2 separate regions of the Homo sapiens genome follow, and region 1 is linked to region 2. Evidence: fine-mapped QTL for protein levels in blood plasma. A gene starts in region 2. The other region holds a variant in brackets. All regions are shown on one strand. Distances are from middle to middle.

Evidence for each region. PIP is the chance, under the fine-mapping model, that this variant and not a neighbour inherited with it causes the effect. The UK Biobank Pharma Proteomics Project read protein levels with antibody pairs (Olink). The fine-mapping took linkage between variants from a reference panel, not from the people measured, so its PIPs are less certain.
Region 1: its variant is fine-mapped to the plasma level of the CACNB3 protein (UK Biobank, PIP above 0.99).

What each region holds. Positions count from the first base shown.
Region 1 is chr12:48,792,187-48,800,509 of GRCh38, reverse strand. It overlaps the pseudogene ADISSPP1. Among named protein-coding and RNA genes, the nearest start is that of ADCY6-DT, 7.2 kb to the right of the region's middle. RefSeq lists a silencer at 4,350-4,644. The variant A/G (reference allele first, on the strand shown) is at 3,301.
Region 2 is chr12:48,815,324-48,823,646 of GRCh38, reverse strand. It overlaps CACNB3 (calcium voltage-gated channel auxiliary subunit beta 3), which reads right to left and starts at 5,151. Exons shown (of 13, transcript NM_000725.4): 1 at 4,673-5,151; 2 at 181-303. The coding sequence starts at 4,717. LOC101927241 (a long non-coding RNA gene) reads left to right here and starts at 6,715. Exons shown (of 3, transcript XR_245978.4): 1 at 6,715-6,887. RefSeq lists silencers at 4,884-5,353, 8,060-8,139 and an enhancer at 8,090-8,323.

The DNA of each region.
Region 1 (8,323 bases), 23 kb after region 2:
CTGCCTTGTTCCCCCATACCCGACATGCTGCCTGATGGTGTGGCTTCCTTGCCCCTCTCCAGGGTGGGTGGGATGGAGTGGCCTTGCCCACGCCTGTCACCTCTGCCTTCATTCAAGCCACCACCCTGCCTCTCCTGCATCCTCCTCTTCCACTTCCTCCTCTCCGTGTGCCTCAGTCTCCTGCCAGAAGAAATGGCTTGAGCCCTCAAGGAGGCTGTCTGAGGAAGGAAGGGGAGGGCCTGGGGTGGGTACTCCCACTCCCCACCCCAAGCCATAGGGGCTCCAGCCAGGGTCTGGGAGAGGACGGAGCTGGTTCTCTGAGGTCGTGGCCCCGTTACCTCTGCTGCTGCCTTGCTTCAGCCGCCTCTCCTGCCCCTCCCTCGTTCGCACTGCTGTCCTCCATGAGTAGCAGGGAGGTGCAGTCCCCAGCTCCTACCCCTCAGGTCTGTGTTACTTGATTTTTAAGCGAGTGGTTGGGATAGAATCCTAAAGAAATAAAACTTCCAGTGTGGGGGCGGGGTGGGGGGGAGACGACCCTTGTCCCCAGTGTTACTCCCAAACATTTGTGTGATATGCCGGCAAGGATCAGGGAGATAACCGATTTCAGTTATCTGCACTCACATACAGGCCCTTTGAGGCTTGTGAGATGAGAAAGTTTGATATTGTTAATCTTTTCAGTCTCTCTCACCTCTTACACACATATACAGAGCTGGCTTCCTGGACCACTTCTGGAAAGAGCAAAATCTACTTTTTCCATGGCAACTATTTAGCCAAGGAGACTGGGAGTAAAAGGGAGGATGTCCCTATGACCCTCTCCTTACTACTCTAAAATATCTTTTTTTTTTCTTTTGAGGTGGAGTCTTGCGCTGTTGCCCAGTCTGGAGTGCAGTGGCGTGATCTCGGCTCACTACATCTTCCGTCTCCTGGGTTCAAGCGATTCTCGTGCCTCAGCCTCCTGAGTAGCTGGGGTTACAGGTGTGTACCACCACACCCAGCTAATTTTTGTATTTTTAGTAGAGACGGAGTTTCGACATGTTGGCCAGGCTGGTCTTGAACTCCTGCCCTCAAGCCATCCACCCACCTTGGCCTCCCAAAGTGCTGGGATTACAGGTGTGAGCCACCATGCCTGGCCTTTTTTTTTTTTTTTTCTTTTTTGAGTAAAATATCTTAAAGAAAAGTGTGGGCATCATGATAGTCCACCAAGAAATACTTCAGTAGTATCACTCAGAAAGAACATATTTCAACCACCATATGATCTGGCAATCCCACTATTGGGTATATATCTGAAGAAATAAAACCAGTATGTTGAAGAGATATCTGCACTCCCATATTTATTGCAGCTTTATTCACAATAGCCAAGATATAGTAACTGGGCACAGTGGCTCACATCTATAGTCCCAGCTACTCTGGAAAGCTGAGGCAGGAGGATTGCTTGAGTCCAGGAGTTGGAAGCTGCAGGGCACTATGATCATGCCTGTGAATAGCCACTGCCCTCCAGCCTGGGCAACAAAGCAAGATCTGTCCTTATTAAAAAAAAAAAAAAAAAAAAAAAAAAAAAAAAAAAAAGGCCAGGCGCAGTGGCTCATGCCTGTAATCCCAACACTTTGGGAGGCCAAGACAGGCAGATCACAAGGCCAGGAGTTCAAGACCAGCTTGACCAATATGGTGAAACCTCGTCTCTACTAAAAATACAAAAATTAGCCTGGCGTGGTGGCGAGCGCCTAGCTACTCACGAGCCTGAGGCAGGAGAATTGCTTGAACCCAGGAGGCAGAGGTTGCAGTGAGCCAAGGTTGTGCCACTGCACTCCAGCCTGGGCGACAGAGCGAGACTCCGTCTCAGAAAAAAAAAACAAAAAAAACAAAAAACAACACACACAATAGCCAAGATATGGAATCACCCTGAGTGTCCATCAACAGAAAAATGGATAAAGAAAATGCAGTATACAGTATATATATTATGTAATAATATTCAGCCATAAAAAAGAATGAAATTTTGCAATTTATGGCAATATGGATGAACCTGGAGGATATTATGCTAAGTGAAATGAGCCCAGCACAGAAAGACAAATGCCATGTGATCTCTTTTTTTTTTTGAGACGGAATCTCTCTGTCACCTAGGCTGGAGTGCAATGGTGTGGTCTTGGCTCACTGCAACCTCCACCTCCTGGGTTCAAATGATTCTCCTGCCTCAGCCTCCCAAGCAGCTGGTACTACAGGTGCATGCCACCACACCCGGCTAATTTTTGTATTTTTAGTAGAGACGGGGTTTCACTGTGTTGGCCAGGCTGGTCTCGAACTCCTGACCTCATGATCCGCCCGCCTTAGCCTCCCAAAGTGCTGGGATTACAGGCATGAGCTATTGCACCTGGCCATGATCTCATTTATACGTGGAATCTTAGAAAGTTGAACTTGTAGAAAAAGTAGAATGGCAGTTACCGGAGGCTGGGGAGTGGGAGGATTGGGCCGAAATGAAGTTGGCCAAAGGATACAAAATCTGTTAGATGAGAGGAATAAGTTCAAGACATCTATTGCACAACGTGGTGAATAGAGTTAATAGCAATGCATCTTATACTTGAAATTGCTAAAAGAGTAGATTTTAGGTGTTCTCACCACCAAAAAAAAAAGATAAGCATGTGAAGTGATGCATATGTTAATTAGCTTGATTTAACCATTTCACAATGTATACATATTTCAAAACATGTTGTACACAATTTACGTACATATATATAATTTTTATTTGTCAATTTAAATAAATAAATAAATGTTAAAATTAGGGGGAATTTCTTAGTGTCAAAATAACATTACCCGGCCGGGCACGGTGGCTCACGCCTGTAATCCCAGCACTTTGGGAGGCCCAGGCGGGCGGATCATGCGGTCAGGAATTCAAGAACAGCCTGACCAACATGGTGAAACCCTGTCTCTACTAAAAATACAAAAATTAGCCGGTCTTGGTGGCACGCGCCTGTAATCCCAGCTACTCAGGAGGCCGAGGCAGGAGAATCACTTGAACCCGGGAGATGGAGGTTGCAGCGAACCTGAGATCCTGCCACTGAACTTCAGCTGGGTGACAGTGCGAGACTCCGTCTCAAAAAAAAATAAAAAAATAAAAAAATAACATTACCCTTCCCTAACACAATTAAACATAATTCCATCTAATATCCAGCACACTTTCAAGTTTCATCATTTGTAAGAGGGGTTAACTTTGATGGGTTTGGGTGGGGGAAGAATTTAAAAAGCCCTCAAGAAGGAAGTGGCATTTTGAGGAGTCCTTGAAAGATGACTAACAGCTACCACATTGTG[A/G]CAGGCAAACCTGAGATGGCCACAAATGATCCCCACGTCTTGGTATTCATGCCCTTGAGTAATCCCCTCCCCTTGACTGTGGGCTGGCCTAGAGACTTACTTCTGATCCATCAGAAGGTGATGGACGGCACTTCTATAATGAGGCTATAAGAGACCATTGACTTCTGTTTGCTAGCGGAATCTCTTCTTGCTGGCTTGGATGAAGACATGCTGCCATGTGGCAGAGGCCTAAGGGAAAGGTGCCTGAGGCCCTCAGTCCAGCAGCCCAGCCCATATGGAACTGAATCCTATCAACGACCACATGAGCTTGGAATTGGATCCTTCCTTATTCCAACCATAGATGAGACTGAAGCCTCAGCTAACATCTTGCTTGTAGCTTTGTGAGACCTTGAAGTAGAGGACCCCACTGAGCTATGCTCAGTCTCCTGATAGGCAGAAACTATGAAACAGTAAACGTGTGTTGCTTTAGGCTGCTAAATGTGTGGTAATTTGTTACGCAGCAATAGAGAACTAATACACTTGTTTAATAAAAATGGCCTTGTGCATGGAAGTCATTGCTATCCTCCCTTTTTTACTAAGGGGGAAACTAAGGCCCAGAAAGGCTTGATGAATTGCCCAACACATACCAGTCATCTTGATTGTAAAAACAGAAACAGACTCCAACTAATGGGAGCAGAAATGACATTTGTTGGAAGGATAGTGAATAACTTGCTCACAGAACTGATAGAAAGGCAAGAGTATAAGGCGTAAAAAACAGGCAGGAACAAAGAGAAATTAGGCAGCAGGAATGATAGGAGGGTCAAGTTCGGGCTTCTGACACTGCTGCTGAAAGCAGAATGAATTCTAAACCGCTCTTGCTTCTTCACACCCCCCAGCTCCAGACTCTAAGCTTTTGGTAGGAGTGGCCAGTCATCTGAGCTTGGGTCAGCGGGTTGGTGACTGGGATCAGTTCACAGTAGGTGCTCAAACATGGTTAATTCAACTCATAAAAGACGAATCTGGCATTGCGTATAAAACTAGATGGAGGGTGCGCTCATCCCTCCAACACCCAGAGACCAGTGTTCCAGCCCTTCCCTGATTTCCAGAATTTCCCATACTGCCCCTAGGAGCCGTGAGCCAGAGAAGACTATAGATTGAGTAGCGAAAAGTTGGGAACTAACTATGGGCTGCAGTACCATGATTGTGCCACCAGAGGGCATACAAGACCCAGACATTTACTAAGGTGGGGACGAGGGAATAGGTGCTGGCGGAATGGGATAGTGAAGACTGAGGAAGTCTGGGCTCTGGAAACCCAGAGAAGGACTAGCAGTGGTGTGGGCACCAAGAGTTGCCTCATCCTCATGGCCCTAGCTGTACTCCCTCTCCACTCTGGAAGCTTTGGGCTCTCCTGGTCTTTGCTCTGAGACCTTTAAGAGGACTTTGGACTCTTCTTTTTATGGCATCAATTCTCCAACTGTAAATACTGCCCCCACCCCATCAGTTCCAGATCGGCATTGGAATAGAGTGCAGGGGTGGGTAGGGTGGGGTAATGGGTGTGCCTCTCGCCCTGCAAATGGGGTGAGGTTGGGATGGGCAGTAGCTTCCTCAAACTAGAGCTCCTATGGCAGTAGGGCAGAAGGAGGTGGAGTGGGCCTTCTCCTCTGGGCTGTAACTTCCAGTGCGTAGCACAGCGCCTGGGACGTGGTAGGAACTCAATAAATATTTGTCGATTGTTGATAATTATTTGATATGCATAAACCATGCAGAGAGAGCCAAGGCAGGTCATTAGGGTACTCCAACTCCAAAACATTTCCTGAGTCCTTCCACTTCTCAGCAGCCCCGCCCTCTATCACCATCCTTGTCCAAGCCACTGTTTCCACCTGGACCACTATAATAGCTTTCTAAGTGGTTTCCCTTGCATCCCTTGATCCCACAATTTATTCTCCACTCAGCAGCTACCATGATCCTTTAAAACCATAAATCAGATCGTGCCACTTCTGAGCTTAACACCTTCCAAAGGCTTCTCATTACACTTTCAATGAAATCCAAACTCCTTTCCCTGGCCTAAGAGCTTCTCCACTAGCTAGGGCATGCCTCCCTTTCTGACCTCATCTTATACTTTCTTCCTTCAACACATGGGCTTCAGCCTCACTGACTTTCTGTTTCTTAAGCACCGTGAGCTTGCTATTGCCTTAGGGCTTTTGCATTAGCTGTTCCCTCTGAAATGCTCTTTACCCAGATTCTTTGCATGGCTGACTCCTTGTCATTCAGGTCTGCATGTACATAGCACTTCCTTATAGGGACCTTTCTTGACAGCCATACCTAGGTTTCTACCCCAGTCACTTCCTATCGATCCTGGGTTCTAATTGTCATCATAGCACTTATCATCAACTATCTTCTCATCTATTCTTTTTTTTTTTTCCCGAGATGGAGCCTTGCTTTGTCACCCAGGCTGGAGTGCAGTGGCAGGATCTCAGCTCACTGCAACCTCCGCCTCCAGGGTTCAAGCAATTATCCTGCCTCAGCCTGCTGAGTAGCTGGGATTACACACACCCGGCTAATTTTCGTATTTTTAGTAGAGATGGGGTTTCACCATGTTGGCCAGGCTCGTCTTGAACTCCTGACCTTGCAATCCACCAGCTTTGGCCTCCCAAAGTGCTGGGATTACAGGCATGAGCCACCATGCCCAGCTTATTCTTTTTTTTGTTTTGTTTTTTTTTGAGACAGTGTCTCGGTCTGTCACCCAGGCTGGAGTGCAGTGGTGCAATCACGGCTCACTGCAACCTTGCCCTCCTGGGCTCAAGTGATCCTCCTGCCTCAGCCTCCTGAGTAAGCTGGAACCACAGGTGCACAGCACCACACTTGGCTAATTTTTAAAATTTTTTAGTCGAGATGAGGTCTCGCTATGTTGACCAGGCTGGTCTCAAACTCCTGAGCTCAAGCAATCCTCCTGCCAAAGTGCTGGGATTATAGGCATGAGACACTGCACCTGGCTCATCATTTTTTCATAAGTTTTTAAATAATTTTTTTTTGTAGAGATGGGGTCTCACCATGTTGCCCAGGCTGGTCTCAAACTCTTGGGCTCAAGTGATCCTTGTGCTTCAGCCTCCCAAAGTGCTGGGATTGCAGGTGTGAGCTGCCATGCCCAGCCTCATCTATTCATTTATTTCTTGTTTCCTCCCACTAGAAGGTAAGCTTAATGAGACTAGGAACTCTGTCTGCTGAGTTCAATTACTGTATCCTCAGCACCTATTAATAGAAGAGTGCCTAACACATAGTAGCGAGAGTAGGTGACAGGGCGAGACTCCATCTCAAAAATAAATAAATAAATAAATAAATAAATAAATAAATATGGGATGAATGAATAATGGATCTAAGGGGATGGGGAAGGGATTTTGTATCCCCCTGGAGTTGAGCCCATTCTCAAGGGTAGTGGTGGTGGTGGCGGTGGAAATGGAGTTGGCCAGAGCCTATTCCAACCCTGGAAGTAGAAGGGGTTGTGAGTCTCTGGAGTGGTGATGGTGGTGGTGGTGGTAGCAGCAGTGATGTTAGGGGTAGTGAAACGGACAAGGCATATTTGCTAGATTGAATGAATGTGTTTTTTTTGTTTTGTTTTGTTTTTTGAGACGGAGTCTCACTCTGTTCCCCAGGCTGTAGTGCAGTGGTGCAATCTCGGCTCACTGCAACCTCTGCCTCCCGAGTTCAAGCTATTCTCCTGCGTCAGCCTCCCCAGTAGCTGGGACTACAGGCGCGTGTCACTATACCGGGCTAATTTTTGTAGTTTTAGGAGAGACGGGGTTTCACCTTGTTGGGCAGGCTGGTCTCAAACTCCTGACTCAGGTGATCTGCCCGCCTTGGCCTCCCAAAGTGATGGGATTACAGGCACCAGCAACCGCACCCAGCTGTGAATTGTTTTTATATGTCTTTCTTACTTTCAGAAAATAAAATGTGCAGACTTTTGGTGTTTTTTCTTTTTTTTTTTTTTTGAGACGGAGTTTCGCTCTCGTTGCCCAGGCTGGAGTGCAATGGCGCGATCTTGGCTCACCGCAACCTCCGCCTTCCAGGTTCAAGCAATTCTCCTGCCTCAGCCTCCCGAGTAGCTGGGATTACAGGCATGCACCACCATGCCCGGCTAATTTTGTATTTTTATAGTAGAGACGGGGTTTCTCCATGTTGAGGCTGGTCATGAACTCCTGACCTCAGGTGATCCTCCCGCCTCGGCCTCCCAAATTGCTGGGATTACAGGCGTGAGCCACCGCGCCTGGCCAAATTGTGCAGACTTTTGATCTTTAAGACAGAAAAGCTAGGGAATGGTTGTTTGCATTGTAAAAGGAATCTTTGCTTTGTAAAAGGGCGTAGGCAGAGGCTAGTTTAGCTGTAACCCAAACAACCCAAGGAAGGCTCAGGGCACTCAAGCCTATCCGTTAGTTACATTGCAGGGTGTTTTCAACACTGCTTATGTATAGAGTGTTGTCCAGATACACTTTTGGCTGTGTGAAGCTTACACTTACATATAATACATTCTGCTTGTAAGAGTTTCCTCTTCCTGAAAATGAGAGATTGAAAATACATCACTCTTGTGACTATGGTCTGTATTATTAAAAAAAAAAAAAAAAGGTCGTTGAGATCAAGCAAGCTAGACGTGGAGAAATACAGTTCCTGCTGACTGCCTCTCTCTTTCTTCTCTTTGTCAGAGTTAAAACCTTCCAATTGGCCATGCGCGGTGGCTCATGCCTGTAATCCCAACACGTTGGTAGGCCACAACGGGTGGATTGCTTGAGCTCGAGTTTGAGACCAGCCTGGACAACATGGTGAAACCTGTCTCTATTAAAAATACAAAAATTAGCCGGGCATGGTGGCAAGCGCCTGTAGTCTCAGCTACTTGGGAGGCTGACGTAGAATCGCTTGAACTCAGGAGGCAGAGGTTACAGTGAGCCGAGATCGTGCCATTGCACTCCAGCCTGGGCAACAGAGCAAGACCCTGTCTCAAAAAAAAAAAAAAAAGTCCTAATATTCTGTAGTGCTAGAAATAGATTTGATGGTG
Region 2 (8,323 bases):
GGCTCGAAGCACCCCTTCCAGCTTCAGTGCCCCAACAGCAGAAGGCCGTGGCCTCTGCCCATCACACACACCCTCTCACACTCAAGGACATCCTGCCCAAGGACCCCTTGGGACTTAGGACCGAGTGCAGGTTTCCACCTAGCTTGGCCTCCTGTCTTGCCCCATGCCCAGAAAGTATACCTTGGCCCTTTCGAGCTGCTGCTGAGCCTGGCTCTCTACTTCACGCCGGGCACTCTCCCGGTCCTCCTCCAGGGAGACGTCTGAGTCCAGAGATGGGCGGCTGGTGTAGGAGTCGGCTGAACCCTGGGTTGGGAAAGAGGCTGTGACTCCCAGGCTCCGGCATGAAGGATGCCATGGAGGCACCCTCCTCACCTTACAGTGTTGCCTCTATTGCCCCCAGTTTCTCCATCTCCAAGGGGATAGCTGGGTCCCTATGGCCCCTCCTATCCCCTGAGAAGGGCCCCAGTGCCTCTGAGGCTACAGGAAAGCTGGCCCAATCCATAGGTGCAAAGATCTGGGCCCCTCCTCCCCCAAGCCTATTAATACTGCAGCTTTGAATAGAGCCTTCACTTCTCTCTTTCCTCCCTTTTCTCCCCTCTAACATGTCCTCTGAGCCGAGGGAAGGGAGGTGTGCTGAAGATGATGTATTAGAGATGATTCTGGATCCAGGAGACCCAGCCCTCTTGTTCATAGCAGCCTGCAAAGCAGCCTGGACATCATCCCTTTAAGATGCCTGTCAGGAGTCCAGCCAGCCGCAACAGTCAAGAGATGCTGGTTGGCACAGCACCAGTCCTGAATGTGGGGATCCAGCCATCTGCCCCCTAAGATTCCACTTTCCCTACTCCAACAAGGCTCTGAAGGCTCCCAAATGGTGAGCCCTTACCCTTCCAGGGTGAAGAGGAGGACACAAAGCTGCCAGCTCCTAGAAGTTACCTCCCCTTTGCTCTCCCCACCCCCTACTTTTCTTCCTTCCACACCTGCTGGGGCAACTAGCCAGGTGTGGGCAGCAAACAAGACACAGACCAAGAACACAAAGCTGTCTCCCTGGGTGCAGGTGAGGCTGGGCCACACCTACCACTTGGCCTACATCTCCCTAGTCCTTTCCCAGGCCCAGGGGACATCAGCCCTAGAAGAAGGCTATGCTAGTGCCAGGCAACCTAGCTACGGAGCAGGACCCCGGGGATGTGGGGAGGGGGTAACATGAGCAAGGAGAGTCTCTGAGTCCTGCCCATAGGAAAGGTCTTGGGCAATGAGGGTGCATTTGACGGTCACAGAGTTCAGCCTCAAGACCATGAGGGAGAGGCACAAATGAGTAAGGGACGCTGGACTTTGAGACAAGAGCCCAGAGGTTACAATGTCTGGGTTTCCTCCTCTGTCAGGGAAAGGGAGTCTTTCGTTTCCTGCCTCAGTTTTCCCTCTCTGTGGGGAGAAGCCTCAAGTGATACTTCCCACAATTCTGAGATGCCAGTGGCAGAGAGAAGGGATAAGCCTAGATAAGGGGTTCATGCAGGAGTGTGTGTGTGTATAGGGGAAGGGGCTTTAGAATGTCCTCAGGTAGAGGAACATTCTCTCAAGCTCACTGGGCATGACCACCTACGGAAGGCAGCAGAGGCCAGACTCTCAGAGAAGAAGGCAAAATCACATACCTGCTGTCAACCATGCCCTCTACCCCTACCCTGCCGTGGGCAAGAGGGCTGTTCAGCTAGGGGTCAGCCCAGGCTCTCGAGCCTTAGGCTAAAGACAGTGTCTATAGTAGACCAAAGGCCTGAAGATAGCACAAGGGGGAAAGATCTTTCATTTTACAGAAGAGTAGTCCGCCGACTGTTCCTCATCTCTCCTGAGAACAAAATGAGGCTGGATGGCAGCAGGATAAGTGGGGGATGAACCCCAGAAATAATCTTTGCACAGGGTGAGGGACCTCCTTCCCAGGGGTCTTAGGACACAAGAGAAACCTCTGTGGGATGTTGGTGTCTGAAGCAACCAGACAGGGGCCAACAGACTGGGAGGCAGGAGGCAAGGCAGATGACCACTCGCTTTGGTACAGATACATTGGGTACCTCCCAGAGGCCCAGAACTGTGCTAAAAGAGGAGTCTGACCTTTTCTGCCTGTGCTCCAGGCTCTCAGCCCAATTTAGTAATCTTTATTTTTATTATTTTATTTATTTACTTAGAGACAGGTCTTGCTCTGTCACCCAGGCTGGAGTGTAGTGGCACAATCGTAGCTCACTGCAGGCTTGAACTCCTGGGCTCAAGCGATCCTCCTGTCTCCTGAGTAGCTACGACTACAGGCATGCGCTACCATGCCTACTAGTTTTTTGTAGAGACAGGATCTTGCTATGTTGCCTAGGCTGGTCTCAAACTCCTGGGCTTAAGCCATCTTCCTACCTTAGCCTCCCAAAGCATTGGGATTATAGGCATGAGTCTCTATGCCTGGTTTAATTTAGTAATTTTTTTTTTTTTTTTGAGATGGAGTTTCACTGTGATGCCCAGGCTGGAATGTAATGGTGCGATGTCGGCTCACTGCAACCTCTGCCTCCCGGGTTCAAGCAATTCTACTGCCCCAGCCTCCTGAGTAGTTGGGACTACAGGCATGTGCCACCATGCTGGGCTAATTTTTATATTTTTAGTAGACACAGGGTTTCACCATATTGGCCAGGCTGGTCTCCAACTCCTGACCTCAAGTGATCTACCTCGGCCACCCAAAGTGCTGGGATTACAGGTGTGAGGCACCGCTGGCGGCCTAATTTAGTAATCATAACGCCTGAGGCATCTGGCTTACCTGACCTCTCACCCTGGGATGGGAATCACAGGATCTCTTCCTAAATATTTAATGAGTTGTGCTCAGAATGGAACCCCCTCTCCATTACTCCCAAGTCCTCCAGGCTCACTCATCTCTAGTGCTCCAGTATTACTTGGGGAGGCCAGGGCTGCCCTGCCAAGCATGATCTAGGGTCTTACCTTTCCTGTACCCTGCTACGCCAAAATAGCCAGAGTTTCAGTACTTTGGAGCTGCCAGGAGTTGGCACAGTGCCCTGGTGGTGCCCCCCTTGCCTAGTGAGTGTGTGGGCAGGCTGCAGCTCCTCTCTTGCCTGGCACGGGGGAAGGAGAGGAGGGAGATGAGCCGTTGGATTTATTTAGAGCCTGATCTCCCTCCTACTGCTTCAGAGGGGGCCTCAGGGAGAGCAAGGAGCCAGGCAAGAGAAAGGGAAGTGGGGGAGGGTGATCAGAGCCAGAGAGAGATGGGAGGGAGCAATGGGTCAGCAGGCTGCCCTCCAACACCATCCACATGTCAGTCTGCTCCTTGCAATAGCCCTTGCCTTCTCACCAGGGATGGGAAGAACCTCCTAGGGCCATCCAGCCCCACAGAGAGGTTTGTTTTCAAGCTCACCTTGGCACCCTGGGCTATACCAGCTGTCCCTTCAACTGTCAGAAAGAGGTGTCCACCAGAGCCTTGAAAATGATCTGATCTAGCGGCAATGTAATTAGCCCCAGAGGCCCCATGGAGAATTGGGCCCAGAAGGAGACCAGTCCCAGAAAAGGACAGTTGCCTATTCTGAACATCAGCATTCATCTATCCTGGGCCTGGCAGTAAGTGATGGGAGAAGACTTGAACATGAACTCCTCTTTCCGACCCAGGGGTGCTCCAACCTATTGGGGCCCCTTCCAAGCCATCTAGTGGTCCACTCCTAAGGAGGCCTTCTTACAGGACATTTGAGGGAAAGTTGTCAGCTCCAAGGGGCTGAGAAGCTGCTCCGCATTCTTGCCCCATCTTTCCAGGCACTCTCCCTGCTGTCTGAGCTCCGGGAATCACTGCTTAATGAGCTGATTTGTCTCAGTGGGTCAGGAGATAAAAGCAAAGAGGAGAATTAAATATTTATCGGTTGCCTGTTTCTCTGAGCAAAGCGCTTCCTCTCCATCCCCAGGCCCTCAGCTCCTCTGGCCTCACCTCCAGGCCCTCCATGCTGGGCAAGAGCTCAGGATGCCCGCTGCAGAGGAAGCCTCAGCAGGGGGCTGTGGAATAGATGGGGCTCAGTCACCTGGCCTACCCATGTGCTGGGCGCCCAGGTTTCAGCCTGGGAGAGAAACTGGGCTAGAGAAAGGGTGAGGAGATGAGGCAATGCGCAGAGATGGAGGGGGTGGAAGGGAATAATGGAGCTCCTCAAGTTTTAGGATCCGTCTGTCTGAAGAGGTTGGCCCCTGGCTCCCTGATGTCCTCTCAGCTCCCTGATGTGTCGTTTGCTTGAGGCACAAGAGGTCTAGAATGTCTGCCTCCCCAACCACCTCGGCGGCTCTCCTAGCTGTTGTGTTCAGACCCCAGAAATCCAGAATTTGGAACTCCAGACATGGCGTGTTCCCTCTCCAGAGCCTCTGTGCCCTCGGCCTCCAGCCCTGCCTTCTCCCACCCCTCTTTCCTGGGCCGTGGAGCCACCTGCTTGAGCCCTTCCCCTATACTGCCCCCTCTCTGCACACACCCGATGCCCCAGGGTCTGAGTCTGGGTCGCTGGGGAACGCTTGGCATGAAAATCCATCTCCCCACGTTCTTAGAGCGCCCCCCTACAAACCCTGCCCTGCCACTGAGGCGTTTTTCAAAGTCCTGAACCGGGGAAAGGGTTGAAGGGAGAGGAGGTGTCACCCCAACTTCCCCGCCCCCACCCTCATCGTGGGCACTCACCGCCTCCGAGTCCTCAAACCCGGGCACGTAGGAGTCGTCATACATGGGGGAGTCCGGGTCGGGGGAGCGAGCGGCGCCGGGGGCGGGAGCGGCCCGGAGGCAGGGGCAAGGACTGCGGGCCGCGCCCGGGAGATGCCACCGAGCCCCGCAGCCCTGCGGGCGGCGGCAGGGAGCGAGAGAGCGCGAAGGAGGGAGCGAGCCGCGAAGACCAGCTGCTCGGAGCTCAGATCACCGCTCCCCCCACCCCACCCCCCCAAACCCAGCCGGTCCCACCCCGAGCGCGGCTGAGGAATCTGGCGCCGGCTCCTACAACAATAGTGCCCGCCCACCTGACCCCCTCCCCGGGAGAAGGCGGGGGCGGCGAGGGGGCGGCGGCCACCGGGGAGCCCGGGCCAGGCCGGGAGAGGGGAACGAACCCGTGCTAGGTGGAAGGTGGGTCCCCGAGCACCTACGGGGCCGTGGCGGCGGGGAGGAAGGGGAGGAGAGGCTGCGGGCAGGGCGGATCCAGGCAGGGAGGAGGCGGGGCGAGGAGAGATGCGGAGACAGAGACGCTCGGCAACCCAGGAACTACTCCGCCGGGAAACAAAGGGCTGCGGCGGGGGAGGGAGGGGGCGCTGAGACCGCGAGGGAGACGCGACCCGGGCGGAGACTGGAGAGGGCGCAGGTGTCGAGGAAACCGGAGAGAGAGAGGCAGAGGGAGGACGGAGAGGACAGGAAAATGGGGAGACCGTGGGAGACAGAAGAGGCGCGGGAACGAGCGGCAGACGGGGGAGGGGTCCCAGGCGACAGCAGGGCGGGTCTGGGCCCGTGCGTCCCGGAGGCTCCGAAAGCAAACCCCGCAGTGGTCCCGGGGAGGAATGGGCTTGGTGCCCCCAGGCTAATGACAGGACGGCAGCTCCTGCCCCAACAGGTGCCCGGCCCCCTCAGTACGGGGACGCTGCGGCAAAGGCGGTGTTGCCCAACCCTTGAGAAGGGGGGAACTTTCCGTGAGCTGGGTAGGCCTCCCCACACCTGTTGCACGGATAGATTTTGTCTTAGTCCTGCCAGGATGGGGGTTCCCTTCCCCACTTCCCTGCCAAGGATTGTGCCAGACAGTGCCAAGGCATCCGTGGGAACTGGGGCAGAAAGGGGCTGTTTTAGGTGAGCCTAAAGGGAAGGGGAAAGAAGCCAGAGGGTGGAGGTAGGGGGATAGTTGTGGGTGGGATCCTGGCTACACTCGGGTTGGGAGAGGAAAGGGCCAGTCTCCTCGGAGTCACTAGGGTAAGGCCAGATTCTCCCCTTAGCAGAAGGGCTTGTACCACTCTGCACCACTCAGTCTCCTTTACAGGAGCATTGAGATTTGGGGTAAGAGAGCCGCAGCCCTTATCTTGAGGAAACTTTCCCCAAAGATCCACCCATTTGAGCTCTTTCCTTTTTTCATCTCCTGAGCAAAATTCCTTCTTTGATTTTTGACTGCCTACCTTTGTGCCCCACGAGGAGGATGTGCGTAGACAGGGGTTACACTTGGAGGCCTCCTGGTGCCCATGCTCTTGGCCCTGAGCTCAGTCCTTTTCCTTCCCAATTTCTCACACCCGGGAGTTCAGCAATCTGCTCATCCCTCCTTGGCTTGAGGAGAATCAGAAATCCAAAACTCTGACATGGCTTAGTAAGATCTATGGTAGAAAGCACTGTGCATGGGAGAGAGAAAGCCCACCCAAACCAAGTGGCTTCCCACCTGGGTCACTTATCGGTGTTATCTTGGCAAGACAAAGAAGAGCTGCATCTTCAGACTGACATCTTTAGTCTGTCTACTGTGGGTGGCCCAGAGCAGCCCTGCCCAGCACCTTCCTCATGCTGGGTTTGACAAACAACTTTGTTGCAGCCCCTGTGGCTGAAGGGACTGTCTCCTCTCCTGAGTCCAGCACCAACTGGGGTTTGGTCATATACTGGATTCTTCTGTATTGGAAGTTCCCAGACACTGCCCACTTTTGTGCCCTCACCCAGTTACGCAGTATTCCTTGTATCCCCCTCTTTCATCCTTTCTCTTCAATTCCTTCTTTCAGGGGCCTGGAGAGGTGTCAAAGAGTAAGACCCTCAAGGTGCTCTTCTCCTGGGAGATGGCTCTAGTGAAGAAAGCAGTGGTGGAGGCAGCTGTTTCTCTTCCCATCCCTGCATCCACTCTCCTGGCCTCTCCTTTTGGGACTCTCTCCACCCACAGAAGGTCCTGGGGCTGTAGGTAACAGCGGATCTGCCATCGGCAGCACTCCTTCCTCACACTCCTTGTAATCTCCTGCGACAAGGTTGTCTAAGTCTGCTCCTGAGGCATGTGTTGCCATGCCAACCATCCCCAGGAGATGGGTTCAAGCTCCTCATACCTGGGCCCATCCCCTGGGTCCTGCAGTAGCTTCAGAGCTTCCCTCCTTCTTCTCATATCTCTGGGTTGCTACCCAATGTTCCTTTCATTTCTCACCCACACCTGCCTACTCTAGTTCTAATACCAACTTGGTGACTTCTTGTCCTGTGACAGGACATGTGCCTGTCAGTGTCCATGTAGCCCTAACCTCTTTTCTTTTTCATGGCTGGGCATAAAGGGAGAGAGCTGAGGGCAATAAAGGATCAGGGGAGAGGCTCCTCCTGCTGATTCTTTCTAGGAGAGAGTTGTTAGACTGGCAGCTGGCAGGTACCCAAGTCATAGAAGCAAGACATAAGAGGAAAAGCCTGAATAATCAGGTTTGGGAGCTGGAATATATTGAAACCTTCTTGGGAGGTTTCAGAATATATTCTAGCTTCTCCTCTAAGTGTACCAGGAAGCTGGGCAGATCCCAGTCCCTGGGCACTGAATGGGGAAACTGAGACAGAAGCTAGGCCTTCTGGGAAGACTTAAAGACTCCTCCCCAGCAGTTTTTAAGATCTGGACCAGGTGGAGGCCCCTACCATTCTGGCTGCTAGGCTGCCAGGGAACTCAGGGACAGGCGCTAGGGGAGCTTGGCAGAGCCCTTCTTGTAATCTAGCCCCTTTTTTTCTGGCTCCTCAGTCAGTCCTCTCCTCTCATCCAATCCCAGTACTAGGAAGCTGCCAGCTCTGGCCGCTCCCTCCTCTCTAACCCGGTGCCTCTTCCACCCCTGGCCTCACTTCCTCCGGTTTCCCTGCCTCCCCATCGGTGCAGTCTCCCCCAAACGCGTGCCCCCTTCCTAGCTTGGAGCGGAGCTCTCCTCCCACCCAGTGGGGAACCCCCTTCCCACGACCCCACACCCCCCCCACGGTTACCTCGTTCAGCAGGAAGGTTGCACTGGAGTCAGAAAAAGACATAGACCAGGCTAGCGGCCTCTCCCCCTCCCCCGGGCCAGGGGCTCCGAGGCGGGAGCAAAACCCGGCCGCTGCTCTGCACGCTGCTCCCGCCTGCACGCCTGGCCTCGCCCCACGCCCGCCGGGCTCCGCCGCCTGCTCCCTTCCCTCTCCCCTGGTTCCCTCCCTCTTTCTCCTCCCTCCTCCCTCCCTCCCTCTCCCTTCCTTTCTCGCCGCCTCTGTCAGTCTCTGGCTCTCCCTGCCTTTCAGCCCAGCCTCTCTCCACTTCCGTCTCTCCTGTCTAAGGTCCTCGTTCTGTTTTTCCGTGTGCCTCCCACTGTCCTTCCATCCCCACGTCGCACCCTCGCTCCTCGGCTTCCCCTGCCG